Linked DNA regions of Homo sapiens. The protein of the gene in region 1 interacts with the protein of each later gene in a pairwise test. Each region holds a gene or a part of one and is shown on either strand. Other genes may lie near its edges. The genes, in order: CNOT2, ZFHX3, TNRC6C and CSTF2.

The links.
Region 2: the proteins of CNOT2 (region 1) and ZFHX3 interact in binary tests that used the Homo sapiens proteins (3 or more experiments, as listed by UniProt).
Region 3: the proteins of CNOT2 (region 1) and TNRC6C interact in binary tests that used the Homo sapiens proteins (3 or more experiments, as listed by UniProt).
Region 4: the proteins of CNOT2 (region 1) and CSTF2 interact in binary tests that used the Homo sapiens proteins (3 or more experiments, as listed by UniProt).

Annotation. Positions count from the first base shown.
Region 1 is NC_000012.12:70,246,425-70,253,452, forward strand, and holds part of CNOT2 (CCR4-NOT transcription complex subunit 2), read left to right. Parts: intron 1-7,028. UniProt on the Homo sapiens protein: Component of the CCR4-NOT complex which is one of the major cellular mRNA deadenylases and is linked to various cellular processes including bulk mRNA degradation, miRNA-mediated repression, translational repression during translational initiation and general transcription regulation.
Region 2 is NC_000016.10:73,045,128-73,051,974, forward strand, and holds the start of ZFHX3 (zinc finger homeobox protein 3), read right to left. Parts: upstream 3,002-6,847; 5' UTR 2,695-3,001; coding exon of another isoform or gene 2,625-2,694; exon of another isoform or gene 2,451-2,624; intron 1-2,450.
Region 3 is NC_000017.11:77,961,694-77,968,721, reverse strand, and holds part of TNRC6C (trinucleotide repeat-containing gene 6C protein), read right to left. Parts: intron 1-7,028. UniProt on the Homo sapiens protein: Plays a role in RNA-mediated gene silencing by micro-RNAs (miRNAs). Required for miRNA-dependent translational repression of complementary mRNAs by argonaute family proteins.
Region 4 is NC_000023.11:100,823,380-100,830,407, reverse strand, and holds part of CSTF2 (cleavage stimulation factor subunit 2), read right to left. Parts: coding exon 6,980-7,028; intron 6,523-6,979; coding exon 6,403-6,522; intron 6,289-6,402; coding exon 6,151-6,288; intron 3,775-6,150; coding exon 3,651-3,774; intron 2,369-3,650; coding exon 2,306-2,368; intron 1-2,305. UniProt on the Homo sapiens protein: One of the multiple factors required for polyadenylation and 3'-end cleavage of mammalian pre-mRNAs. This subunit is directly involved in the binding to pre-mRNAs.

The DNA.
Region 1 (7,028 bases):
TCCAGGGTACCAGGTAGGGCAGTTTAGGGGCAGAGTTAATATGAGGTGTACTGTAATGTTTGAGTGGAATTACATACAGTGTTAATCAAGAGATCTAGTGCTATGGTAGAACTTATTCTGCTTGATGATACAGGTGACTGTTCTTCCTTACTAAGAGCAGTTTCTACCTGTGATACTTAAAGGGATTGAATTTCACTGTGACTTATATCAGATATTTTGAAAAGAGCTGTGCTAAAGTTGATGTCATTGTAGAAAGTTTGCCTTGAAGTGGAATGAAAGTTAGGTTTTTATTTCTTTGGTTTTTCTGTTTGACATCCTTTGATTTCTATTTTAGAATTCAACTCTTATGACTAATCATGCTGATGTGGTTTGTTCATTTATTTTCTTTGTCTATACTATTAGGAATGTCCTGGAAATAGAATTTGTACTGTGTTTTCTGAGAGCTTGTTCTCTGAAATACAGATGCAAATCTGTTGGTATCTGTTGGTATATCCCTTGGGGGTGTGCTGCATTATAAAGTAATAAAACAGTTTACAATGTTTGCTTTTTGTCAAGAGCTTATGACATATAATATGGAAATACAAAAAAGTGAATTATTTAGGAAAAAATGGGAAATTTTTCCTTTTCTGGGCACTTCAGGGTTTTGTATATGCGTAGACTCAGGATCTAAGTCCACTTAGATATATAGTTAGATATTTTGGACTATTTGCCACTTAACCCTGCACATTTTCTTTTCCTTATTCTTTTTTTTTTTTCTTTGAGACGAAGTTTTGCTCGTCGCTGAGGCTGGAGTGCAATGGCGTGATCTTGGCTCGCTACCACCTCCGCCTCCCGGGTTCAAGCGGTTCTCCTGCCTCAGCCTCCTGAGTAGCTGGGATTACAGGCATGCACCCAGCTAATTTTGTATTTTCAGTAGAGACAGGGTTTCACCATGTTGGTCAGGCATGTCTCAAACTCCTGACCTCAGACGATCCGCCTGCCTCACCCTCCCAAAGTGCTGGGATTACAGGCATGAGCCACCACGCCCGTCCTATTCTTTTTATTCATGTGTATGTTATTGCATGTATGTGTGTGGGGGGCAGGTGGTAGTGCATATTTTATGTATCTTTCACTTCTCTGTTGTTTGATGAACTTCTTCCATACTCCTCTTTGGTATCACTTTCTTCATAAATCTTTCCTGACTCCCCAAATCCTTTGCTGTATTGCTTTTTACTCTTCAAACTTCTATTATAGAATGTCACACTGTATTGTAATTTACTGTCCATCTGGACTGGGAGCACCTGAGAGGTATGGCCTTGACTTGTTTATGTTTATGTTTTGAATGCCTCTATAGTGCATAATACTTAATAGGTTCTCAATACGTATCTATTAAACTGAACTGTTGCTAGATTGTCATTTGACAGTGCTGTTTCACAATCCACAGATCTGAAGCAACAGATTGGAAAAGTGGTGGGGAGAATAGCTTCCTGTATTCCTTCACTTCCTTGAATCCTTTCTTACAGTTTTGCTTCTTAATTACATATGGAAAAATAGATAACTAGCTTCTTAGGGAAGTGTGTGTAAAGTTAGTATGGAATTAGGGAAGGATGTTAGTAATAGAGTGATTAATACCCTGTTTTGCTTCTGGCAGGATGTTTAGATCTGTATTTCTTGCATTTCTCGCTGTATTTTGTATGGTTATGGCTATTATGTGAAGGAGATATTTTGTATTTGTCTTTACAAGGTATCATGTTTACCAGTACTTACCCATGAGCTCATATTAGATTTGGGGCTTCTGAAGATAGATTCTGTTTTTCTCACCTTTTTCCTCCTAATGCCTGGCCCATTGGTTAGTAGAAAGCAGGATTTCTCTAGTTTGAATAAAATTGCCCTTATGGAAATAAGGTGAGATGTGTCTTATTGGAGGTCCAAAATTTAAAAAGCTCTGAAAGTTGATCATTTCTTTTGTTTTGTTTTGAATAAGCAAGGTGAGAAAATATCAACTGGAATTATACCTGTGAATTTGATTATTATTATCTTTCTTAATCTGATTTTCCTACATTTTCATATGGAAATGTTCACGTGTTTGACTGCAGGTGTTGCCATTGGCAGATGTTACATCATATATGATACATACAACATTTTACCTTTCTCAAATCTGAAACTGTGTTTTGAGAAACATCTGGCCTTTATAGGTTTGTTTAAGAGATTGTGAGCCAATTTTCTGCCCATTTTAGAGATGTAGAAATCAAAACAGGATAGATGACTCTCAGAATTGCATTTTAGTAGATATGCTAATATTGATAATGATTTTAGGAATATTATGTCTTAATTGCCTGTATATGTTCCAGAGACCTTTTAGTGACTAAGAGCTGCCAAAGATACAGAGTGTATATTTTTAAAAAGGGAGTATGATCCAGTACTCAGGACACCAGTCCTTTCTCTGCCTTTTCTGAATGGAAATGTCTTTCCTTATACGTGAGTAGATGAAAATGCACATTTAGTAAGTTTTTACTAAAACTTAGTAAAAACTAATGATAAAATGAGTGAGGGAAAATTATGTATCCTGGCAATTTAGGTAACAGTGAGTAGACTTGCTTGTTTTTCAAACATATTGATATACTATTTTTCCATTTGTGTATTCAGATGTTGAAACAGCTCCAGTTTGTATTAGCATCTGGACAAAATGTAATGACTGATTATGTAATACAATGTGTTTGAGAGAGGAGCATTTGGTTTTGTGTCATATCTGGCAAGAATGTGCTTTTGTATTACTTTCTACATTGTAAATTATAATGCCTATCCTGCATACAAATTTTGTATTTAGTTTTCTGCTTGTAAGAATCTTTCATAGGTCAGTAAAATAAAATATTAAGTTTACTATGCCATTCCAAGCACCTGACTACTTTTGGCTTTGCTACTTAATATTTTTAAAATGTTTTACAGCTTGCAGAGAGGACTTTTATATACATTATCTTAATTTTATATATATTAAAATAAGTTTAAAACTTAGCATTTATGTTTATAAACAAGCTATTTTGGTCAATAAGAAAATTAGAAGTTGGGAATTATGAAGGCCGTTTTCATCTTCAGACTGGACTCAGAGTCTAATTTCTTTCTCATTTATTTTAGCGCTACTTTATAGAGAAAATCGTGATTTATTAAATCAAATAGATGTTAATGGAAGACTTGTTTTTGTTTGCATCTGATCATCTTGCAGATCCTGGATATTTAATCAAATTGATGCAGAAGTTTGAAAGACAAGCAGCAGTAGGAAATTTTTGTTTCAAGCTTGACTTTTCTGACAATATCCAACAGCTGCTCATATTTTTAAAAATTAGAAACATTCACTGAGAAACGTTAAAAACTTAAAAGCAAATACTGTGTTATAATGAGAATAGGTAATAACATATCATTGATGCTACACTTTACATATTATTGCACCATTATTCTGAGGTAATCATATGCCGAACAGATTACTGCACAAAGTAATGCTTTAGGGGTGTAGTTTTTATGGGAATGAACATGTCTGGCCTGAAATTAGAAAAAAAATTGGAGCCATAATCTTTCTAATCTATGCTTGCTTATGAGAAATTCTAGGTATATTTATGTCAGGCCAAACTATTTGCTACAGCAAACCGGTTAACCTGACATCTGAGATAGTCTTTAAAGTGTTTAAGTTTGGTATACAATGCACTTGTGTGTGTATATGACTCATCCTAAAATGGATGGATGTGTGTAAAAAAATTGTAATCCAATGCTTAAATGAATTTGTGAAGCACAAATAAGTGAAACACTAAGATGTTTCAGAGCATAGTTTGAAAATCCCTGTGCTCGATCACCAAAGTCACTTCCAACAGTAAAATTCTGTGTATTTTAAAAGTTCTTTTTCTATTCCCTGCACATGCAAAATTCATATAATTTAGCTGCTTTTTAGTAGTATTTGGATAGAAATTGTTTATTAAATTTAAAGTTGAGGCTCTGCTGGTTATATGTTAGCACTCTAGATGTTTTCAAGTAAATCCTTTAGTAATATGAGTGTTTAGTCTCTGCTTGACATTGTTATTGGATATATGACGGTGATCCAGACAAGTCTCCACCTTCATTAATGTAACATTCTGGAGGAGGAGACAGACAGTAAACAAATAAATAAACATAATTTCAGGTAATGGTAACTTAGGAAAAAATAAAGGGGGATAAAGGTACAGCAATTGATTAGAAATGGAAAAAAGATTAAGTAGGGTGATGAGAGAAGACTTCTGTGGAGGTATCAGTTGAGCAGAAAGGAGTAAGCCATGCAGAAATGTGGTTGAATGGTTTTCCAGGCAGAAGTAATAGAAGGCCCTGAGATAGGGTCAAGTTTTGTATGTTTGAAGATAAGAAATTTCATAAACAATTACTTAGTGCTTTCTGCATAAATGGGGGTAAGCTCTAAAGGGGAGAAGAGGTGATTAAAGCATAATGATCTGTGTCTTTCACTTCAGAAAATATTGTGGTGGACCCAGTAATCTGTAATAGGTTTTACAAAGAGCAATAGGAAGGAGGGATTATTTTTTATTAAGGTGCCTTGAAATTGTTTTCTACATCAGATGAATTGCAGGGGTTGAGGGGTGGTCTGTCTGGAGTACTGGAAAATGACATAGGAAAGCAAACTGAAAACTTTCCTTAATTCATGTGTTTATGTAGAATAATAAAACCTATACTTTTCTTAGAAATTAGTAATAAGTTTCATATTTAATTAGATTTTCTTGTACAGTCCAATAAATGTTACTTTGTGCTGTGCACTATTATAGTTGCACTGCGTAATTCCTCAAGTTAAATTTTTGTCATACTGTAGAAACATCCTAGAGTAGAGTAACTTTGTTTCAGGGAGTTAATGAGTTGGCTTCAAGGAGGTGATAAGTGAGCTCTGGGTTCTGAAGGGTGATTTGTAGTTAACTAGGTGGGGGAGGGTAGGGAATCAGCATTGTAAATGCACAAATCCTAGGAAAATGTTCTAGATTTGGAGAATGGTGAGGTAATCCTCCATAGCCCTTGATGGAATTCTGGGACCTCATAGGAGAAGTTAGTTGAAGGAATGAAGTAGCCACAGTATGAGGTCTTATCTTTTATGTGATGAGGGAACCATTAACCATTAGGAGGGGAAAAAAAAGCCAGTGAGATTGATAAGCAGATTCGTGTTTCAGGGGAAAGTTTAGATTCCACAGTCGATTTACAATTAAAATTATAAGCTTAATGGTGTATGTTTATGACATTTTTGAAAGATTATTTTCTCTCCATTAAACAAATTGAGTACTTTGCATTCATATAAGCAGGATTTTTATTTGTTAAGAACTGTATGACTTTGAAACTCTGTAGTCTATCTTTTAGAGAACTTGTTATATATGTAAATGAATGCCAACTGTTCAAGATTTTTCCGTTACTGGGGTGGAATTTTTGTATACGTTTTGGGGCAGGCAAAGTTTGAGTATTATCATCTGATGTAATGTGTTAGGCATGAGATTTAACATTCTTGGATAAATTGAAATAATACCAAGAAAATCTAAATCAGTGATAAAATCCCTACATAGGTGCTGATATTTATGTTATGTTACTAGAAGTGCTTATTTTACAATGCTATGATATGTGTTTGTGTGTTTCTCAAAATATATAACACTTGGATATATTAGGTTGCTAGCATTATCTGTTAATTGACATGCAGAAACAAATCCTAAATTAATGTTTTTAAAGAGAAAGAATTGCTTCTCTGAGAATGTAGTTTCAGCAAGTTATTTTTATTTTTATTTATTTATTTCTTTTTTTGAGACAGGTCTCACTTTGTCACCCAGGCTGGAATGCAGTATCATGATCACGGTGCACTGCAGCCTTGACCTCCTGGGCTTAATCAATCCTCCCACCTAAGCCTCCTGAGTAGCTGGGACTACAGGCGCATGCCACCATGCCCGGCAAATTTTTGTATCTTTTGTAGAGACAGGGTTCCTCCATGTTGCCCAGGGTGGTCTTGAACTCCTGCGCTCAAGCCATCTGCCTGCCTCATCTTCCCAAAGTGCTGGGATTACTGGCCTAAATTATTGCTTTTATTGTATGCATTATATACTATTTTATCATAACAAAAGTTAATGGTTCAACTATGGCATTTAGAGCTGCCCACGTAGCCTGATTGTCTATTTAGTTCACTTTTGACTGAGTAAAATGGAGCTGATCTATCTGCTATTAAAGAGAGTTATATTCTGAAATTTTACATGATGTTCATAATGCCTGGAACTAACCAGCCTGAAATGGAATCACCGTTGTACTGTTTTCAATTGGCTAGGTGACTTATTCTCCCTATACTTCAGTTTTCTCATTTGAAAAATGTAGATAAAAATAAATAAATAAAAACAAAGAAAAATGTAGATAAATAACAATACTTACCCAGTAGAACTGATGTAAGGATTAAAGTTTTTTGTGGGTTTTTTGTTCGTGTTCGTTTTGGAGTGGGACTTGTTAGGTTAAAGAGGAGCTTCTGGGGTATACAAGAATTAGCCACAATTTATTTCATAGAGTGCACTATACTCTTTTTTGTATCAGATTCGTAAATGTAAACAAGAATGCAGTCTTGCTCTTAGAGTCTAAACATGTTTTTCCTACCAGGAATTTTGTTTAGATGACCTTCTGTGAAGTAAGATGTGTAATATTTTGAGTAACATAAATAAATCGTCATATTGCTCTGTCTGTAGTACTTGGCAAAGCACAGGGCACATAATAGGCATTTAATAATTCCTGTGTTAAGTGGGATAAATCTAATGGGTTAGGATTCAGACAGACTGGTGTCTACCTTTTTCAACCTGAATAGTGCAGAGTTAGTTACCTGTAGTAGTTTTTTCTTCTGTGCCTGTTTTCTTCCTTAAAATTAATAAAATATTTTCTTCCCTTAAGTGTATTTAGTAGGTTTAAATATGACCCTGTAAAACTCCTGACAAGTAGGTATTTACTGTTGTTGGTTCCCATGCCATTTCCTTTATTTAGAGCAAAAATTGCAAAAATCCTGGAAGTTCAGAAGAAACACT
Region 2 (6,847 bases), on another chromosome or scaffold:
GGTGGAAGAAAAAAAGCTCCTACCCCTGAAAGATACACCAAAAAGGAACAACTGCACACAGTGACAATAAGGACATGTTTCCTGGATGCTAGAACTAAGCCACATCACCACTAGCCCTAGAAATACTTTTCCAGCAGTCTGTAATCACAGATTTATTCTAATGAACTAACCACTTTTGGGTCACCAAAGATGAGCCAGGCCGGTCCTGGGAGTGTCTAGCAAGCATCATTTAAAGTCATAATGATGAAAACTAAATCTCGCTTATTTTAGCTCCTTGCCACTGGGCTGTCCAATTGGCACTGAGTTGACACAGCAGTTAAATTCAACCTCAAAGCAGCAAGAAGGCAGGCACTTCACTGTCCTGGTGGGAAGAGCCAGGCAGGGGCCTGTGGAGGGCACCGTTTTAGATGGGCCTTTCCAACCCTCCCTTAACATTCATTTGTGCAAACAAAAAATGGAAGAAAAGGAACCAAAATTAAGTTTCAGGTGGTTGGGGAAGCAGCATGGATTTACATTATTATTATTATTATTATTATTATTATTATTATTATTATTATTGAATAGTTAGCAAGTGTTTCTCAATAGTTCCCTGTTCATCAACACTGTTTTCAGGAGAAATGGAAAACAGTAGCTCTATTTCATAGAAAGTACAGCCATTTCAAAAAAAAAAAAAAAAGTGGGGGGGGGTTGTTGAGAGAGGGAAGTGACCCATGTCATAAAGACAGAAGGTCTCCAAGTCACTTAATTCCTTGTGATTCTGAAAGGGCTGTTTTTAAAGTCTAAAAGTGCTCGCTTCTGCATCTGCTCCATGTTGTTAAATAACACTTGTGTAATTAAATAAAAGAGCCAACTGTGACCCCAGCCCACTCTGAGAGGCACTTTACATGCTTTCTGAAAACTATGCTGGAAACACCATGAGGAGAACTCCTTAGTCCTGTAATTTAGCAAAGGGAGAGAGAAAAAGTTTCTTTTGGCCATCATAGCTACACACTCTCTGAAAGGGTGCCTGCAGGGTCTCTGCAAAACAGAATGAACACAAATACAGGCGTGCAAACATCCAGGTATGTACCTCTCTGTGAAGACCCCATTCTTGAAACCCTTCAATTATTTGGAACCGTGGTCTCCTGACTTCCCTCACACCTCACTTTTGCCTTCATTGTTTTTCATGTTTGAGTAGCAAGAGGGATTCAGAATCTCAGGCTGCCAGTGGCTGTTCTGATAACAAGGAGCAGACTCATGTTTCTTGCTACGGCCTTTCTTGATCAGGTTACCTTGGAAGGTGTATGTTTTCCTACCCAATGCAGTCCCCACCACAGCACTCTCGTGTCCTCCTCCAGCCCAGCCTCCTGGAACTCGTGATTTTCAGGGTTTCCCTTGAAACCTATCCAGAAACCACAGCCATTAACTGAACGTGAAGATTTGACACCTCCTGAATTCAGGAATGAGGGAACTCGAGGGGCCAACTCTACAAACTCGCACCTGCTGCTTGACGGCAAGGAAACAGAGTTTCCCCAGCTAGGGTGAGCTTTAAATTATACACTATTTATTTAGTGACTTGTCTCCAAGGATCTCAAAGCATAGAGAGAAATAAGATGATGTGTAACTTTCTCACAATCTACCTTCAAGGCTTTGCCCTGGTGCATTCTGACAAGCAGGACCCAGTATGAAGGAGAGGCCTTCCTTCTGTGCCCAGGCAGAGCCATCTGTTCTCTCTGGGGTTTTCTGTCAGTGGCTTTAGGGAGTCTTCAAGGACTGTTAAATGACACAGAGGGTGGGGGGAGGGATGACCCTCCTGGATTCACCTGCTCACGGCTTTCACTTAAGCCAGTTTAACACAGGAGGTACCACTGTGCCACGCAATTCCCTCTTAGCACACACCATGCGTGAGCTGCAGTCTTTGCCCTCCAGGCCTTTTCCTATCATAACACAGGTGTGTCCAAGGCAGAAAAGAACATTTTCCAGAAGGTTCGTTTCCCTCCAAGCCTACAATGCTTCTTTTTGTTGTTATTGTTTTTCTGCTACTGACCTAAACATAGGCATTCCTCCTCCTAACAGGATAAAAATCTTGACTCTCTCCTTTGCATCAGCTCCCCACCCCGCCCCTGCCCAAGGAAATAAATGCTCTGACTTTTCCAAGAGTGCGAAAAAACTAAAATTAGAGGGTGGACAAGATGATCTCCAAAGGTGCCCTCCAGCTCCAAAACTCTGATTCTCCCTTTAATTACTCCACAAGCGCATTCTTCACATTGTTTCGAACTGACCAGCGACTTCTCCAGGGCTGAAAAGGGTGCATTTTTAGGCGGAGGCACCCAAACTTCTAAATGACACCAGTACCACAAGTATTCAGAAGGCAGGAACTAATCCAAAAGCAGACTCAGGAAAGGAGGAGGGAGGGGAGGACAGAGGGAAGGGAAGGAAGGAGGAAGGAAGAGCTTTACTGTGTGCCCAGCAGAATTTAGGCGCTCTCACCCTAGGTAGGTGGCAACTGGAGTCTGGGAGTTCAAGTGCATCCAGCCTGCCCTTCCCCCACACGCCCCAAGAGAATGGGAAGTTCAGCCAAGACTCGCAGCACCTGCCCGCGGCTCCAGGCCGGCTGCGCGGACCCGGAGGGAGGCTGCACTCACCTGGCACACCAAGCCTCCGCGCACCTCCGGAGGGAGGCGGCACTTGCAGGTCCGGGGGCCGCGCCGCCATGCGCAACAACGGGAAATTCCAGTGGCACCCGAGCCCCGAGCTCACCCACCCCAGGCGGCATGCTCCCCACCTCCCGCTGGCCCCAGGACTCGGAGGTGGCTCTGGTCAGGAGCAGGGGGCCCGGAGACAGGGGAGGGGAGCTCATGGTGGCGGCAGGGCTGGCGGTCGGCCCGTCCCCGGAGGGAGGTCCCCGGGACGCGGCGGGGATTCACCCACGGGGCGCGGCGCTGGCGTCCGGGTCCCCGGCCTGCCCGCCGCCGCCGCCTCCTCCTCTGCCGCCGCCCGCCCGGAATCGCTTTATGTAAATGAAGCCCAACTCGCAGTTTGCAGCGCGCACCGCCCGGGGAAGGGGGGCGGGCGGGGCGGGGGGCCTTCGGGGATCCACATTACACAGCAACAAAGCGGAAGGTTAATTTGAAACTCACAGCCCCGCTGCCGCTCGGCTCCCCGGGCAAAGCCTGACATCTACAGTCGTGCCGGGCGCAGGCCGGGTTGCTCGGCGGCGACCGCGCCCGCCCGCCCGCAGGGACCCGGGGACGCACAGGGACGCGCGGGACCCGGGCGCTCAGCTGCGCTCGCTCCGCTTGGGGCGCGGGCCTTGGGGCAGGCCGGGGGTCCCGCGCACCCGCCTGGGGCCAGGAACCCTCGCCGCTCGGCCTGCGCCGCCCCGGGAACCGGCCCCGGCGGGAACAAAGCCCAGGCCCTCCCGGAGGCGCTGACCCCTCGCTCATCAAAGGTCAGGGGCCGGCCTAGAATCGGGCGAGAAGAAAGGGACGCGCCCTCGGCCACTAAAAGGAGCCTGAGGCCTCCGAACCGGAGCCATCGCTCCCTGGGCCCCGTCCACGTCACAGCCAGGCCACTCAAGCATGGGGACAGGAGCCAATGTGGACAGGAATTTATTGGAAACACACACCCATCCTATTAACTGCTTTACAGAGCACTTCTGTTTTTCAGTTGCAGAAACTTATAAAAACATCCCCCTGCTCTCCGTTGAGAGTTTAAGGATAGTTTTTGAGGCCAGAGAAAGAGAAAAGGAGAGATCACTAGAAAGATAGGAAGAAAAGAAGTGGGAAGAAAAGGAGATGCAGTCTACCATGTAAGCCTCCAGGCTCCTTAGCCTCACCTTATAAAGCCACATCACCGCAGAGATAGCAAAGATCGTGCCCTTTCCCAGGGAGTTCCTACCGCCAGGGTAAGATTTAAAGCGGCCACCCCAGTTGGTCAAAGTGATTGCTGGGCGCCTTTCTATCTCCCCAAGTTCACCTTTTCCAGTTGGTCAAAGCGATTGCTGGGCGCCTTCTATCTCCCCAAGTCCACCTTTTTCCATTCTCATCTGAAAGCCAGCCCCAAAGAAATCTCACCGGAAGTCCTCTGTCCTCCCTGTCAGAATCCCACCCTCAGTCTGAATTTACTCCCGATTCTCACAGCACAGAAAGGCACCTGCTTTTACCCTTTCTGAAAACCACCCACCCAGGCTGGCCTTACAGCCTGGAGAGTCTTTTCCTCGGGCACAATAATGAACCATGCAAGTGTTAGAAATATAATCAGCTCATGAGGCGAAGAGCAGTATGTATGGAATTGTATTAGCATGAGGCACACACTGACTCGGGAGAAAAAGGGATGCTTAGCTGGTGAAAACCATCACATCCCCGTATAGAAGGCTTTTTGCACAATGTAAGTTGGGTTCAGATTAATGTAAGTATCTAACCTGTTGGGTACAGACAGCCCCTTTCTACATTTTAGTCCAGAATAGATTCTGGGGAAATTTATTTATTTATTTATTTATTTCAGCTAAGGCCCTGGGAGAAAAGACTGCCTCCAGGGAATCATGTCCGATTAGGGACAAAGGAGGGCACAAGCCCAATTCAGTCACACGTGAGAGCACGGGGGCCGGGTGGGGGGAGTTAAGAGCCAACAGGGAAGGTGGAGGATGAGTTTGCAAACCAGACTATGGTCACTGCAGAGCTGCTTCCAGACCACCTGACTTCAGGCCCAAGAACAGGTGGTGTTTTCAAAACACACTGTTATTTATATTGGCCATATAAGTTGAGAACACCTTAAAGAAAACAATTAATAATTTAATTGAAAAAGTGACTATGAATAAGACATGAAGATGACGTATGCTAGCAGGACCGCAAGCAACGTGGCCCACAACGCAGAGATGCCTCTGGCAATCTCTCCGGAAAAACGAAGATTCCTTACCTGGGATAGGTAAGGCCTGCTGGATAAATTAAAGACAACAAGAAAATGTTGATACTCTCAGAAAATCTAATTTTGCTGCTTTATCTTCATTTTTATTAACAGGGGACAACCTCGTAATCTGGTGACATCATGATCCTGGTAGGCCCACAGACAAATACCTTCAATAAAATAAAAGCTAGAAAGCCCAAAGAACAAGCTATTAAAGTAACCTGGGAGGATGCAGCACTGCCTGGGCAGAAGGCCCGGACGGGATCTGCCCTAATACTGCCACTGTCCCAAGAGGCAGACCCTGCAACCTGCCTCCTGCACTTGAGAGGCCTGACAAGTAGAACTGAGAGTGACCCTGAGTTCCTTTTCTTTATCTGGCACCAGCTACACACATGATGAGGCCTAGTCAAGCCTGCCTTTGTTCCAGGCAAAAATTTAACAGGTAATCCACAGGCAGGTGATCTATGGCCTCTGTACATTATGGAAATGAGGGACTACACACAAGCTGGGTGTCACCTCTACTAAAACTCATTTTCCTTATTCATAAAAACAATACCTCTTCAGAGGGAATTGGCAACTTCTGCACTTACATATGAAATCAGGAGTTCCTCTGAAATACTCCTTGCAAATTCTATCCTCCAGCTCTGGAAGCCCTGGCTCTTCGGAGGGCAGCTGCCTGATGTTAAACCCATGGCCTACCCAGCAGTGACAGCCTGACATTCTCATCGCTCCATCCTGAACACTGCTGACAAATAAACCCACTCTCAGAAAAGGCAATTCTTCCCTCGCAGTTCTCCATACCCAGTCTCGTCTCATCTGGAAAGCGTAATTGGCAACAGCCGAAAGGATAAATATTTAAAAATAAATCAGGGAGCGCTAACCCCTTCCCTACTCCTCCCCTTACCCACTCTCCAAGCCAGAGGCCTGCCCCCTAACGCTGAGCTGGCTGGTAAATTACAATGATTCTACCGAGCCAAACCTGCTTGTCTCTCTCTTTCTCTACACATACACACTTACTAATGCTGTATCCTTCCACTTTTGCAAAGGTAAATATGATCTCTAAGATACAGTGGATGTCAGCATTCTGACTTCCAGCGTAACCTGGGCTCTCTTTTCACAGTACAGCGGGTTTAGACAGATTTGTGCACCCTTCCGGGTTCTTCTATTTTTATTAAATTATACGTATACATTGATTTTTAAAACTAGTGCTTAAATAACCCGGAGGCTTTAACAAAGAAAAATCCAGAAGAGGGCAAGAAACAAAAACAAACGTTCCTGAAATAAACAAGGAACCATTTGGAGCTGAATTGGCCTGAGTTCACCCCATGATTTTGAGGCAGTTATATTTAGGGGCCTGGTACCCGCTGGGTGGCCGAGCCCTCCTGGGTATGGAACAGAATGCAGAAGTTCCTCAGAACAGCTCACATTTGCCTTCATAACCATTGGAAGCTGGTGTGCCAAGGCCTGCACACAGATGTTTTGATTCACATTTTTCTGCTGAAGCCTCAAGGCCTCCATCCATCCCTACAGTGCTAATTCCATAGATTAATTTTTACCCCCAAATCGTAGGTGGAACATTATCTAATTTCCTTACCCACCCTCCCCAGCTCAGGTGCTAAATCTGTCAATGATATCCCACAACAAAGATACAAATGAGTAACCATTTTTTAAAAGCTGTGATTTCGGAGAGTTTTTCTAAATTAATTTTAAGTTACAAAGCCCCAAGTTTTAAGAAAGCCAAAATACAGAAGTTGCCTTAAAACAGCTTTACATGTTAGGTAAAGAGCTCTCTCTCTCTTTCTCGCTCCTTCTTTTTTAAACAAAAATATTATTTCTGAAAGGGCAAAGGGAATTTGCCATGCAAGACTTTTAAACACAGGGGGATTCTTACATTTGTGTTTCTAAACCTTGAAATTGAGAATTTTAATGAAAAGGCGGACAGATGCTTAAGGACAGCATCGCA
Region 3 (7,028 bases), on another chromosome or scaffold:
TTAAGATCTACCCAATCAAAATTCTGCCATCCAAGGCTAAATAGGCATGTGCATAAGCTATTTAAATAACTACATCTCGGGCCGGGCACGGTGGCTCACGCCTGTAATCCCAGCACTTTGGGAGGCCGAGGTGGGCGGATCACCTGAGGTCAGGAGATAAGAGACCATCCTGGCCAACATGGTGAAACCCTGTCTCTACTAAAAATACAAAAATTAGCTGGGTGTGGTGGCGGGCGCCTGTAGTCCCAGTTACTTGGGAGGCTGAGGCAGAAGAGTCGCTTGAACCCGGGAGGCGGAGGTTGCAGTGAGCTGACATCACGCTACCGCACTCTAGTCTGGGCGACAGAACAAGACTACGTCTCAAACAACAACAACAACCCACTACATCTCAGCCAGGCGCGGTGGCTGACGCCTGTAATCCCAGTGCTTTGGGAGGCCGAGGTGGGCGAATCACGAGGTCAGGAGTTTGAGACCAGCCTGGCCAACATGGTGAAACCCCATCTCTGCTAAAAATACAAAAAATTAGCTGGGCGTGGTGGCAGGCACCTGTAATCCCGCCTACTCAGGAGGCTGAGGGAGGAGAATCGCTTGAACCTGAGAGGCAGAGGTTGCAGTAGCTGAGACCATGCCACAGCACTCCAGCCTGGGCAACAGAGCGAGGCTCTGTCTCAAAATAAGAATAAGAATAAGAATAATAAGAATAATAACTACATCTCAAATTTTTATAAAGTAACCTTTAAAGGAGTACTGAAATTATGAGTAAACATAAATTGATTTCAAGAAAAAGAATACTGACAATCTCTTTTTAAAAATCCTCTTATTTCCAGAGAGTTTTCCCTAAAGGAGGGCGGGATATAAGTCTATCCAGAATAATGCTAACCAGACATTCTGGCTTGGCCAGAATAATCTCATTAGTCATAACACTCATTTTTCCAATGGGCTAGTATCTAAAGACCATCATCAAATCTGTGAAAGACAAGCCAGGAATTACCTTGTAATTGATCTATCATACCTACAATTTTGTTGTGCATGAGAAGCGTCACACATTGTTTTTTCATGATTGGGTCAGTGGCACTTATTGGCAGTGCCCAGAGGCCTCAGGAAAAGGAACTAGCCACTCCTTCAGGTACCCTACAGAAAACAGTAGTGCAGGGAGCCCCTATGATGACTGTTCCTCACCTGTCAGCTTCCCAATTCCCCTCAAATCTGCAGATACAGCCCCACGTACCAGGCTTACTAGTTGAAAACACAGTTGATCGTTATTCTAAAAGATTAAAAACCGAAGAAACATGTTCAATTATCAATCTTCTCTCCCCCCCCGCATGACTTGTGGAAGCAATATCTCTGAAGAAACAGATGATTGTTATCTAAATATCTTCAAAATACTATAGACGATGTAGGGATTACAAAGATGAACATGTTATTATCCCTGCTAATAAGTAACTCAAATCTTAAGAAATTATCATGATAATGAAGTTTTTTTTGCAAAGCATTAATCTGCAAGGAAATGTGCTGAAATTTAAAGTCTAAAGTTGATAGAAAAGAATAAATAACAATGCTCAATTAAATGCCACACTACATATACACAAAAGTCCAACAGTGGCTAAGATCCTCATTCATCACCTGACTGATAAAATAAAAAATATTTTTATCTGTTTTAAAGTTTCCCCACTCTACAGGAGTAAAAAAGAATCTATTATTCCTTAAGTTTAAGGAATCTCTTAAGTTTACCTAAAATTTAAAAATTCTAGTAACTTCAACACAATTACTAATGCTGCTATTCTATTTATGTAATGATTTGATCTTATGCTTCCTTGAAACATTAAAGATTTTTGTTTTCTCTTCTTTCCTGTCAACATTCCATATGCATAAAATTTACTATATACCTGGGACTGTTATATAAGATCTAGGTCAAGAATTTTTTTATGGGTATGGCCCTAAGAAAATCTGATTTCATTGAGAGTATCCACCATAATTAACAGCAGACGTCTATTATTACATGGCTCATCACATACTTGGATTTATGCTGTGAGTCAAATCTCTACTGCAGAACACAACCTCATACAATAAACTCGCCTAAAACTACTATCTTGTGTGTCATCTTTCCCCATCAGCATCTAAAAAGAATGTACTATGTGTATTTAACCAAATATCTTAATATTAGCTTCATTAATTTAAAGCCTCTGTGGCAGATTCTAGGAAGAGCAGTAAGTACCCTATGCCTCTTAGAACTCATTCTTTCCAACAACCCACGTCAATCATTTTGTATTATTTTATCCTGCTGATTCTTTGTAACAGCTTTTCAGTTTGACCCTACCAGTATGTAGGCATCACCTTGCACAGACAGCTACAACAGCCAGTTTTAACACCATACCTCTGCTCAAGGAAGATTCTAATCCAACACCTGATTCATGTCATGCCCACCAACAGCCACCAACGGTTCCTAAGGAGCCAACAACTAGAGGTTCCACCTGATAGAGCCCCTTCTAAACCTTATTGCCAACACAGAACCTCCATTTACAGCTAGGCCTCTGCACTCATCCAGTCAATAACTATATCCCGTCCCTACTATGTCTCAGCCATTATGTTACGCGCTTTACAAAATATTTCCAAACATGGCTTGCCCATTCGTCTCCTTGTAGAATATCCCTTTCATCCAACCAAGCTTTGCCAGCCTTTCAGAACTCATTTCAAGTGAAGTCTTGCCTAACCACTGCAGCCCACAGGCCCTCTCTGGGGATGACCAGGCACTCTTCCTTTCTGAATTTGTTAAAGTCAGTCCCACTGAACTAAAAAGTGGTATGAAGGGAAAACAATGTTCAATGGCCACATAAGTTTGGGAAATACTGGGCCAATAAAGGTAAACATATTTCTTTCACTGCTGGAGTTCTCAGAGCATCCAAAATTTTGACATGCGTCCTTAAGAGAGGAGATCCAGTATACAGCTATATAATGATCTATTACCTTAGGTTTTTGTCAACTTTTTAATATGTGTATGTGGCGTTCTTCACATGTATTGCTTTCTCTCTTTTTTTAACAACTTGTTTGGTGCCCATTTCTCTCACTATACTAGTAAGACAGCTCCAGGAGGGCAGGAAGAAGTTGATGTCCTTCCCCTGTGGCCGCTGCACAGGGAAGACATAAAGGTTTTGTGGAAGGAATGATGTAATCAGGCTCAGGCTTCAGAAGGCAGCACAGCGGAATGATAAAGAGCTCAAGCTCTGGCTTCCAAGGACCTAGACACATTTATTAAGGCTCTGATTTGGGGCAAATTATTCAACTTCCATCAGTTTCAGCTTCCATGTATAAAGTGAATATAATCACAGCTCCTAACTTATAAGCTGCTGAGGAGAAATGAATGAGATCATACACACAAAGTGCTCAGAAGGCAGTCAGTTAATATTGGCAGCTGGATAGCAGGACACAGAACAGAGGAAGAGACTCATTAAGCAGCTATTAAAATAATCCAAGCTTTTTCCATATGTGAGGGCTTTGAAGTGTATTGAGTTTAAATTCTGGCTTCATCTCCTATAAGCTATAGGATCTTGTGGAAATTACTCCCTTTGCTCATCTGTAAAATGGGAATGTTAAAAGCAACCACTTCACAGGAGTGTTGTGAGGATTAAATAAGATAAACTCATGTCCTTGGCACATAATCACATTGTAAATGCTCAGATTAGTTTTAAATGGAGATCTGGTTACCTAAGGATGCTTTCTAACCTCGTCCACTCCCACTTCACAATTCCCAATTGTCCTCAGTGACTCAAATGTACTTGTTCCCACAAATCCATCACCTTCTTCCCTTACTGTGCCTCCCTACCAAAAAAGACCTTGTTTAAGACATCAGCCATAGCCCCCTGAAGAACAAAGCCTATTAAATTCCCTCCCTACACTCTGGGCCCCTCACTCTGCACTTCATATTTCATATGGAGTATGAGAAAAAATACTTGTGCATCTCCCTCCTCCCCACTGTAATTTCTGAATAACCGTTGTCCACATCATCTCAACAACAGTTGGAAAGGTGACACCTGTGCCCGCGTTGCCATTTCCCAGTTTCAGATCTTAGTTTAATTCCCAGTTGCTATTTTCACTGAGATTTTCCCTGCTTCCTAAAAGAGTAATTAAAAAGAAATGATCTTTGGGAATAAAAAAGTAAACAATATCTTTGCCAGGCTCAAACCAAGCACTTGATTTTAGCTGTGAGAGATCTTATTCTTAATAAGCTAGAAGGCACACATAAAATGAATCAAACAAAGCACATATTCCCAATAACCACCTGGGCACCAACTTGCATCTGGTATTAGCCACGTCAAAAGACAGTCTGCACATTAGTAAAGGACTCAACCACAGACAAGAGTTATCCAACTGCTGAGAATAATTCAACTTGACACTGTGATACTATAGGTTTGTAGTTCAATCCTTCAGAGAAGGAAGTTATAAAGATACAATAGAGTATTAATTTCTAAAATGGTCTGAAGAAGAAAAACAGAGAGGGTCTTCAGAGTAAACCATTTGGATTTATACAAATAGATGCCAGTCACACTCTTCTTCATTTTTGTGCAAAAAAATTAAAAATTTGTTATGCCAAAAAGGTTCATGAGAAAGTGGAAACTGGGCCAAATTAGACCAATCCATCCCACAAAATATCTGGAAGATTCCAGATGACTCTTTGGGCCATGTGCACTGTGTGTGGCCCAGTGATCATATGGGTCTTAGGGCAGTGGTTCTCCAACAGAAAAGAAGTATTGCAACAAAGAGGCAAATAAAGAGGAAGATGGTGGGACAGACAACTCTTATTTCCTAGACACCCCTTATTTCCTAGAGCAAACATTTAAATCCACTGGCTTACAAGAGGAATATACTTAAGAAGCTATATTATTGCTCATCCTTAATCACTACTATATTTTAGAAAACCAAAGTTCCAATGCATAGCTGGAACTCAGAGAGACACAGAGAATATTAAGAGTTCAAAATAACATTGAGTGTTCCTTTCCCAAGACCATTACTTCTGTTGTGGTTTGCAGCCACAGAGGGCTCAGGAGAGTGCGAACAACTATCTGTGCTACAGCAGTGATGTTTTATGGCTGGATGCCCAGATTGTCTAGCTCTGCACACAGCTCTATAGTCTTTTGAAGGCTACAGAGGAGGAATGCATTCTTAACAAACAGCTCTCCATTCCTGCAATAGCTTCTTCATTCTCTGAAAACATCTAAAGCTAAGAAAAGAATTCATTTTTAGTAAAACTCCAAAAATGGAACAAACGATATGGATTTTCAGCATGTTTTAAACATGTAAAACCTTGTTATATATATCCCAGGTGGAGATTTTTTAAAATTACATAATTTACTTTTCATTAAATAAATTAACATTTCAAATGCACGATCTGTACAATAGGAAACTGTACCATTATTTTAATCGGGTTATTCAAACAAGTTCACTGGCTAAGATTATACATTTCTCAGTTTCAATTTCAGATATACACTTTCTGCACAAGGTTATATAGTTATTTCTGACAAGTAACCTTTACATTTTTAAGTAATTATATTCCTAAAAAGTTATGTATAAGCTGAAAATTTATAAATGGACTCCACTGCATTAAAGTCTATTTAAAGAAAGCTTATTGTATATCATTTTATAAAGAATGCTCTCCTCGTGACCACACAATTATTTAAAAACTCATTTGTATAAATTTGGATAGCCATAGACTGAGTAAAAGCAAGAAAACCTGTACAATCTACCCCCTACAAAATAGGAGCCACTTCTCACCTGATATTTTGCTGTCCCTACTCAAATCTATGACATCTTCAAACAAAATATTAAGATGTTAACTATCTAAAGTAACTAAAATCCAGTCACCTTCACTGGGACCAGTTGTCATGCAAGAGAGACCAAAGACTGTGTCACCAACACTTCAAAATATTTCCTTACTTCTCACCTAAAATATTTGAAGACCCTCTGAGATAGAGCTGGAGAAAAGGTAAAAACCCATGTCTTAAAATTATGAGAAAGAAGCCAAAACAAGTTCAACGGAAGATAACAAAAACAAAACAAACATAAAGTTACCTGGTTCTTCCCAGCTTATATAGACCCTTTCACGCTCAGTCTGTTCAGGACTCCGCCTCCTGCTCCCTCAACCTATCCTTCTGCCAGCTCCAAGGACGTCTATAAATCTGTTCCTGTCTCCTCCTCTCCATTTCTTGTGCCTTCTCCACCAGCTTCAGTTGCTCTTGGTAATCTTTGCTTGCTCTATCCCCAAATCTTAATTGTCCCATGTGTTTTACTTTGGTATACGGGACAGCCTAGAGTTCACAGCCAAACGATTTTCTTTCTTATAAAATCTTAAGTATCACCTTTGCACAATAAACCCTGACTGAAAGATAAACAGTCATCCAAAGCATAAGCATGCAATCGAATGCTCCAATTCCTATTGGGGAAGGCCAAAAAGACCCCCAAATAGTCTTTTAAATGGTTTTTCAATCTTAAAAGGTTGTTGGTGAACTTCTACGATGCCAAAGATATTCTATATACTCAAATCAAACAATTAACTTTCATCAGTAGTCTTTTTTAAAAAATGTCAAGTTAGCATCACTTTCCTGGGCCAAGCAAGACTAAGTTACAATCAAGACCTCATCCCCTTCAATTGGGGTTGGAGAGGTAATGTAAATACCTCATTCCCAGCCAGCACTGCAGGAACTGTGTCTTCCATTTCTTTCCAAACTGGAAACTCCCTTCATTAAGGAGAAAGGTTGTCCTACTCCAGCCCTGACCCTCCTCTGGCTTGGTTTTGGAAGTAAGCCAGATGACAGCATTTGGAAAAGCACAAATGTATCTCAGGAAAGCCAGCTGTTTAACAAAAAGGTGGCGGTAGCGGTGATGAAAAATACTGTATTTAGTTTCATATATCCTCTGTATGACTTAGTTATTTTTTAATCACCGAATGTCAAACGAAACAGTTCATTCCACTCTACCTTCACAATCAGCATTCTAAAGGCAACTATTTACTCCAAAGTTCCTAAGCCAACTAAATA
Region 4 (7,028 bases), on another chromosome or scaffold:
ATAAAAGAAACTGCACTGAATCTGGAAGGCAAGATTCATTCTGAAACGGCCATAACTGAAGTACGGCAATTCTATTTTTGTCACATTTTAAAGCACAAAAATTTCTGCTGTCAAAAATGTATCAGATGGGGAAATGCAGTGAATGAACTTTACATGATGAAAGAGAATATCACTCCACAAGAAATACTCTGCCACAGCAAGTCTTTGATAATAAACATCATGACAACAGCAAACAAAGACTAATGAGATGACATGGGAACCGACACTAAACAAACATGGCAGGGAAGCAAGAAGTATCTTCTCAAACATCTCCATCTCCTTTCAGCATTAAAAGCAGCATGGATTTCAGGAAAAGTAAGACAAACTAGGCACACACGAAAAGACTCTTGCTTCCTCTGCTGGGTACTGAAGGAAACTATAAAAGAAAGCTCATCTCACTTAGTCTCTGCATGAAGACATCCTGGAAATACCCTCAAAACATGAGTCACTTCCCTTTGCCAATTTCTGACAAAAAGGTGAAGATAACTATAATAGGAAGATGTCTTGTGCAAGTATGCGTTAAACAGCTAAAACCTGATGGATTGAGGGCTGGCCCCATGACAGGCAGAAGTATGACTGAAACCCTAATACCTTCTCATTACTGCAGAAATACTCTGGGGAACATATATGATCTATTGACAGTGGTGCGGTGGGGATAGAGGGATGTACAATAGCACAAAAGCATTGGATGCTTAGAGAAAATATGAGATATTTGGCCAGGGAGTTTGTCCTGCTGTCAGACTTCTAACAAGAAAAAGTTAATTCTGTCACTTCAGCAACCAACCCCAGTGTAAAAACCACAGGCTTGTATATTAATGTTTATGTATGTATGTGTGTATATATATGTGTGTGTGTGTGTATATATATATATTCTTTGAGACAGGGTCTTGCTCTGTTGCCCAGGCTGGAGTGCAGTGGTGCCCGATTATGGCTCACTGCAGTCTCAACCTGTTGGGCTCAAGTGATCCTTCCACTTCGGCCTCCCAAGTAGCTGGGACCACAAGTGCACACCACCATTGCCCAACTAGTTTTTGTATTTTTTATAGAGACGGGGTTTTGCCATGTTGTCTAGGCTAGTTTCAAACCTCTGAGCTCAAGCAATCCACCCACCTCAGCCTCCCAAAGTGCTGGGATTACAGGCATGAGCCACTGCGCCTGGCCAATATTTTGCTTTTTAAATGGGTTCCACTTATAAACCATATGCTACAAAAGAAAAAACCTTAAGCTTCTCTATGCTTGTCCAAAGCAGTCTTTCCCATCATTTTATTCCCAAGGAATAAGAGTAGAAGACACTGAAGAATATGCTTGGAAGTTAACAGAGGCAGTGTGGAGTGACAGAAAGAGGACAGATTCTGGAGTCAAAGACTTCTGAATCTTAGCTCTGCCACTTACTAGTTGGAAGAGAAAATAAGAGCACCAAATCCAGTCCACATTACTCATACATTAATATTTACTTACCTTGTCCCCTTGAGAAAGTAACTTATTCTGAGCTTCCAACTCTTTGCCTGTAAAACTGAGGTGCTGCCACCTAACTCACAAGATTATTTATGAAAATTAAAGTGCCTGGCATATAGTATGCACTCAGTTCCTTCTCTTTTCTTACGATCTCTCCTCCTAACATTGTTTCCAACTGAACCACTGCACTTTCTTGTCCTTCAAACTCCAGTAACATGAAGAAACAACATGGAGATTTTGGAGCAGCAGCTACTGTTGTATATAGCAGTACAGCCACGGTACAACATATGTTCATTAAGTAGGCGTTACAGACCTATGATTCCCTCCCAGTTTTCTCTGGGGTTTAAATCTAGTCTTCTACATACCCAGCCACATATTTACATGCTCATTATTAAAATTCCTTACTCAGTCAACAGATATCCATACAGGGAGAGAGAACATGTCAGTGGAATTATTAGACTAGGAATCAGGAAACAAACGATCCACTTGCTTCATTATCAATTCTTGTAGAGCTGGACTCTGAATCACCAGGTGGAAAGTCTAGACCAGCACTGTCCAATAGATCTTTTTACGATGATAGAAATGTTCTATATCTGTAATGTCCTGTATGGTATCCACTAGTCACCTGTGGCCACTGAGCACTTGGAATGTGGCTATTGTGACTGAGGAACTGAGTTTTAAATTTTACTTAATTTTAATTAACTTAATATTGAAATAGCCATGGGTGGTTAGTGGCTGCCATATTAGATACTGTGGATGTGGAACACTTCCATGACCAATTAACATTAGTCAGACATTAATATTTATTTACCTTGCCCCCGTTCCATGGACACTGGTCCACTTCCTGGCATTCCAACCTGAGCCTGCATTCCTCCTAGAAGATAAAGGGCAGACAAGAAAAAACACCAATTAGAACAGCGGAAAAGAAAAATTAGAACAGTGGCTGAGTTTACAAATTTCCTCATTCTGCTCCACAAGCAGAAACCTACAAAGGAAGATATTCAACAATGCAATGAGAGAGAAGATGGGGTTTGTTAGTATATTTACAATTTGTACTTTATGTTTCAGTGACAGAATAGTGAGTTCAATAAGAATAATTCATTTCATTGGTTACCAAACTCTTGGCAGGAAGCTCTTCTATAATACAGGAAAACAATGTCACTTACCCATGGACCTCCTGTCATGAAAGATAATTTAAATACAAGTATAACTCTATTAGGATAAAGTAGATACATAACAATCCTAAAGTAGATACAAAAAATTCCTGAGTTTGCAGAAATTTCTTCAAAAAATCTCTTCTTCCATTCCTCATCAACTTAGCTCTGCAGACTGGATTCTCTACAGAACAGAACAATTTAGAATTAAATCATTCTCCATGAGTAGTGTTGTACTCAACCTACCCTAGATTAGATAAATTAACAAAAACCAAGTTTGTTACATAAAAAAACTTTAAATATTGGTAATACATCATGTGTTCATACAGATGTTTCATATGGGGAATCATTATTTCACTCAATCTTCTTAGTTACAATTGTTGAACAAGGAACAGTTACAAGTATATGAGCAATACTCTTATTAATTGCCGATCTATACATTTTCAATAAATGTACATAGCTTTTAAATTTCTCTTTTTCCCTTTTGTTGTTTGTTCTGATTATGTTTGTTAAAATACAATTTTATGTCAGTTTAATATGCTATAACAAATGTGACCTTGTATTTTTTTGTCTGTTTTCTTCATGAGCTTTTGAACCTAATCTGACAGTTCATTCATATTTAGCAGAGTAACAACTACATTAGTTTTTATTCCTTCCATCTTACTCTACATTTATTATTACTTATTTTACACTGTCTCTTACTTTTTTCCTCTTCTCTATTTTTGCTGGCTTGATTTTGTTTCCACTCATTCCATTTTCCCCCTTGTTAACTTGGAAGTTTTACTATGCTCTTTCACTTTACTGTCCCTTTCCCTGTTCTTATAATTAGACATACAGGATTTAACGTAAGAAATCTACTATTTCCTCCACCTAAGATATATACTTTCTAGCTGTGTATTAATTTTACCTAAGGATCCCATTATCATATTTGGCTGCACTGCAACAGTGGCTATGACAAAACTTTAGCAAGTACTGAAATGGTGAAGACTAAATGAAACTTACCTCCAGGAGCTAAGGAACCAGGGCCAGGTCCTGTGACAGCAGCTGGCATTTGCCCTGGTGCTGGAACTCCACCCTGCATAGAAGCTTGCATCAGAGGAGGTGCGCCATTGACATGCATTCCACCCTGACCAAGCAAAAAAAACAGAGTATGTATATGCCTCTGTGGATACTCAATATACTAAGTCTACGACCTTAAAAGTCCTCTTCAAATGAACAGCCCCAAATACACTACTAAACATCCTTTTTGTATGGCATGTCTTATGCAGCATTAGATTTGTCACACACTTTAAACTCCACAGAAGCAATATACGTCATGAGCCTGGTTATATGGAACACGGTTAAGATGGAACATATTCTCAATGTAGAGATTGACAAGTCTTATCTGTGTGGCAAGGCAGCACATAACACCTACTGTTAACTTCATGATTGGGGCTGCCAATAAGAGTAAAAAAAAAAAAAAAAAAAAGCCCTAAACCCAAGAAACATAAAAGGAGACTGGGACTCTTTTAAAAAAAACAACTGCTGGTAGTCCACATTTTTAAAATTAAATTTTTTTTTTAATTTAACCAATCTTTTCTCACTCCTGTCCTTAGATATAATTCTGGTTTTGGGGGAATGTGAAATATATTTTTTTAAATGCTACATTAAAACTCGTTGAGAAAAAGAGAATGTCATCTTTTCATCTGTGCATTCCCCAAAAAACTGAGTAGTCCCTTGAATTAGAAACAGCTCAATAAATAAAGAATAAAAGCCAAGTTATATAAAAAAAATCACATATACGTTTAAGGAACACAAAACTCTACAAAAGAAAAGGAAGAGCTGTATAGGAAAGTAGTTAAGAGAAAACTGGCTGTGAGGTCAGATAAAACCAGGTTCAGAAATAGATCTGCCACTTATAATTGTGTCAATTTTTGGACCAGCTAACCTCTCTGGGCCTTAGCTTTTTTTTTCTATCTCTGAAAATGTATTTATTTATTTAGAGCAGGGGTTGGCAAACTATGACCCATGGGCCAAATCGGGCTCACTGCCTGGTTTTATAAACAAACTTTTAACGGAACACAACCACACACACTTGTTCACTTATTGCCTATGGCTGATTTCATACTACCATGGCAGAGTAGCTGTGGCAGATCCTGTGACTTGCAAAGCCAAAAATATTTACTGTCTGATCATTTACAGAAAAATGTTTGCTGGTCCCTGCCCTGTACCTCTGCCAACCTGAGAGATGAAAAATGGTAGCTTATTGTAGTTTCTATTTACATTATCTTATAACATTACATATATAAATGATAATTTATTACATTATCTTATTTTGAAGTTGAATAAATTTTTATATATTTATATTTCTCCTTTTGTGAAATATTTATGTCTATTTCCCATTTTTCTACTGGGTTATTGGAAATTTTCTTACTAATTTATAGGAGGCCTTTTAAAATTTATTATGAAAAATTACAGATATACAAATCATATAGAAAATAAAATAGCCACCCAGCTTAGGAAATAAATAAGTAAATAAAATAAACCAATGGCCTGTACGGTCTTCCCCAATTGCATCCTGTGCTCTCTTCTCCTTTGATGACCACTAAGACGTCTTCTTAATGTTTCAAAATTTTATATGAATCATTACATACTCAATATATTATTTTGCAACTCATTCCACATATTTTGGGGATTTATGCAGAAACATATATCCTACATTTCGGGAATGCATCCATATTCACTTAGTTTCATGTCCGTATGTCACTGTTTTGGAGTTGTGTTGATATTATGTATCCTAGTTCATCTTAACTGCTGTATGGAATTATGTTTTTCAAAGTCATTCATGTTGATACGTGTAGTTTATTTAACTGTTGTACAGTATTTCACTGGATGAATGTACCACACATTTTCTCCATTCTTCCACTGACGTACATTTAGGACATTTCCAATTTTTCACTCTAAGGCAATAAACATTCTTGTGAATGACTATGGGCTCTTTATTAGTCTGTTTTCCATCACATGTGTGGTAAATACTTTTTCTCAATTTGTCATGTCTTTGATACTTATTTTTTTCTTTATATAGAAATTTTTTAGTTTTCAAATGTATCAATTTTTTATGGCTTTAAGGTTTTGTGTCATGCTTTGAAAGCAAGCTTTACTTTTTTCATCAGTAAGAATGGAGATAATAAGAGTGCCAACCTCATACAATTGCTTTGAGGATTAAATGAGATAATGCATATGGAATAACGAAGTGCCAACCACAGTGCCAGGCATGCACATACACACAAAGTTAGCTTATAAGAAAAGGGCATACGGGAAGGATCTCTTTGTTTTACAAACTTGGAATCGAATCTATATTCATTCAGATGTCATGTGCTCTGCAACCTGGAAATTGCTTTTATGCCTGGAAATTGAAATTATCATCTCTGGTTCCTGACCATTCTTCTTTCAATATATTCTCCTAAAAAGAAAATGACATTCTAAGACAGATACAAAAAAATGTTAAGGGATAAAGCCCTACCAAAGACTGGGCCTGAGGGGCCTGAGGATTCTGCTGGTTCATTGACACATTGGATCCTGAGCCAGGCCCAGCACCATGGACTGGCTGAGGGTTGCCTGCAATCAGCGTTGGGATATTTGTCTGGCGATGCAGAATTTTCTAAAAAGTGAAAAGACAAACCTATGAGCTGTCTGTTTAACAAAGCAATCAGGTAGTTCCTATCCCATTCAAGGTTTACCCGACCATTTCCATAAAAGAACCAGAAGCACTCACCAGGGCAATTTCCGGATCCACAATTCTCATCACTACCTGTGCTTGCAGCAAAGCATAAGCCAGTTGAGGGTTCTGAAGTAACATGTTCCGTGCCTCCTGGGGACTATTCTGGACACAGAGCTGAGAAGATAAGCAGATTCAGGTTTAATACTTATGACTTAGAAACTGATAGTGATTTAGAGCCATTCCCCTCTGAGAAATGTAATATTCAAGAGGCTCTTTATCATTAGTTTTTGCATGGCACAAAAAAACCTTGGTCATGGCAGGCAAGAGAAGAAAGAGGCATTTCAAATACTGTGATATTATCATTTAGGAAAAAAGCCAAATTTTAATATCTACATCTGACATCTATGGGCCACAAAACTCCAGCTGGATTGTTTGGATAGCTGTGTTTGTGTACAAAAATAGAAAGCTCTTTGTACAAAATGTAAAATATACTGTGTACATACAGAATATTGAAGGTGCAAGAAATGGTGGTCTACAGACAATTTCTATTTGAGCTCAGGGAACTAATTCAAGTAACTCCTTGAAAACCTGATGTGATTTGCTTTATTCATAACCTAATGCCTCCTCCCACCTTCATTTGTTTCATCAGCTCAAACATCTGCTCTGGTGGAAGGCTGGCA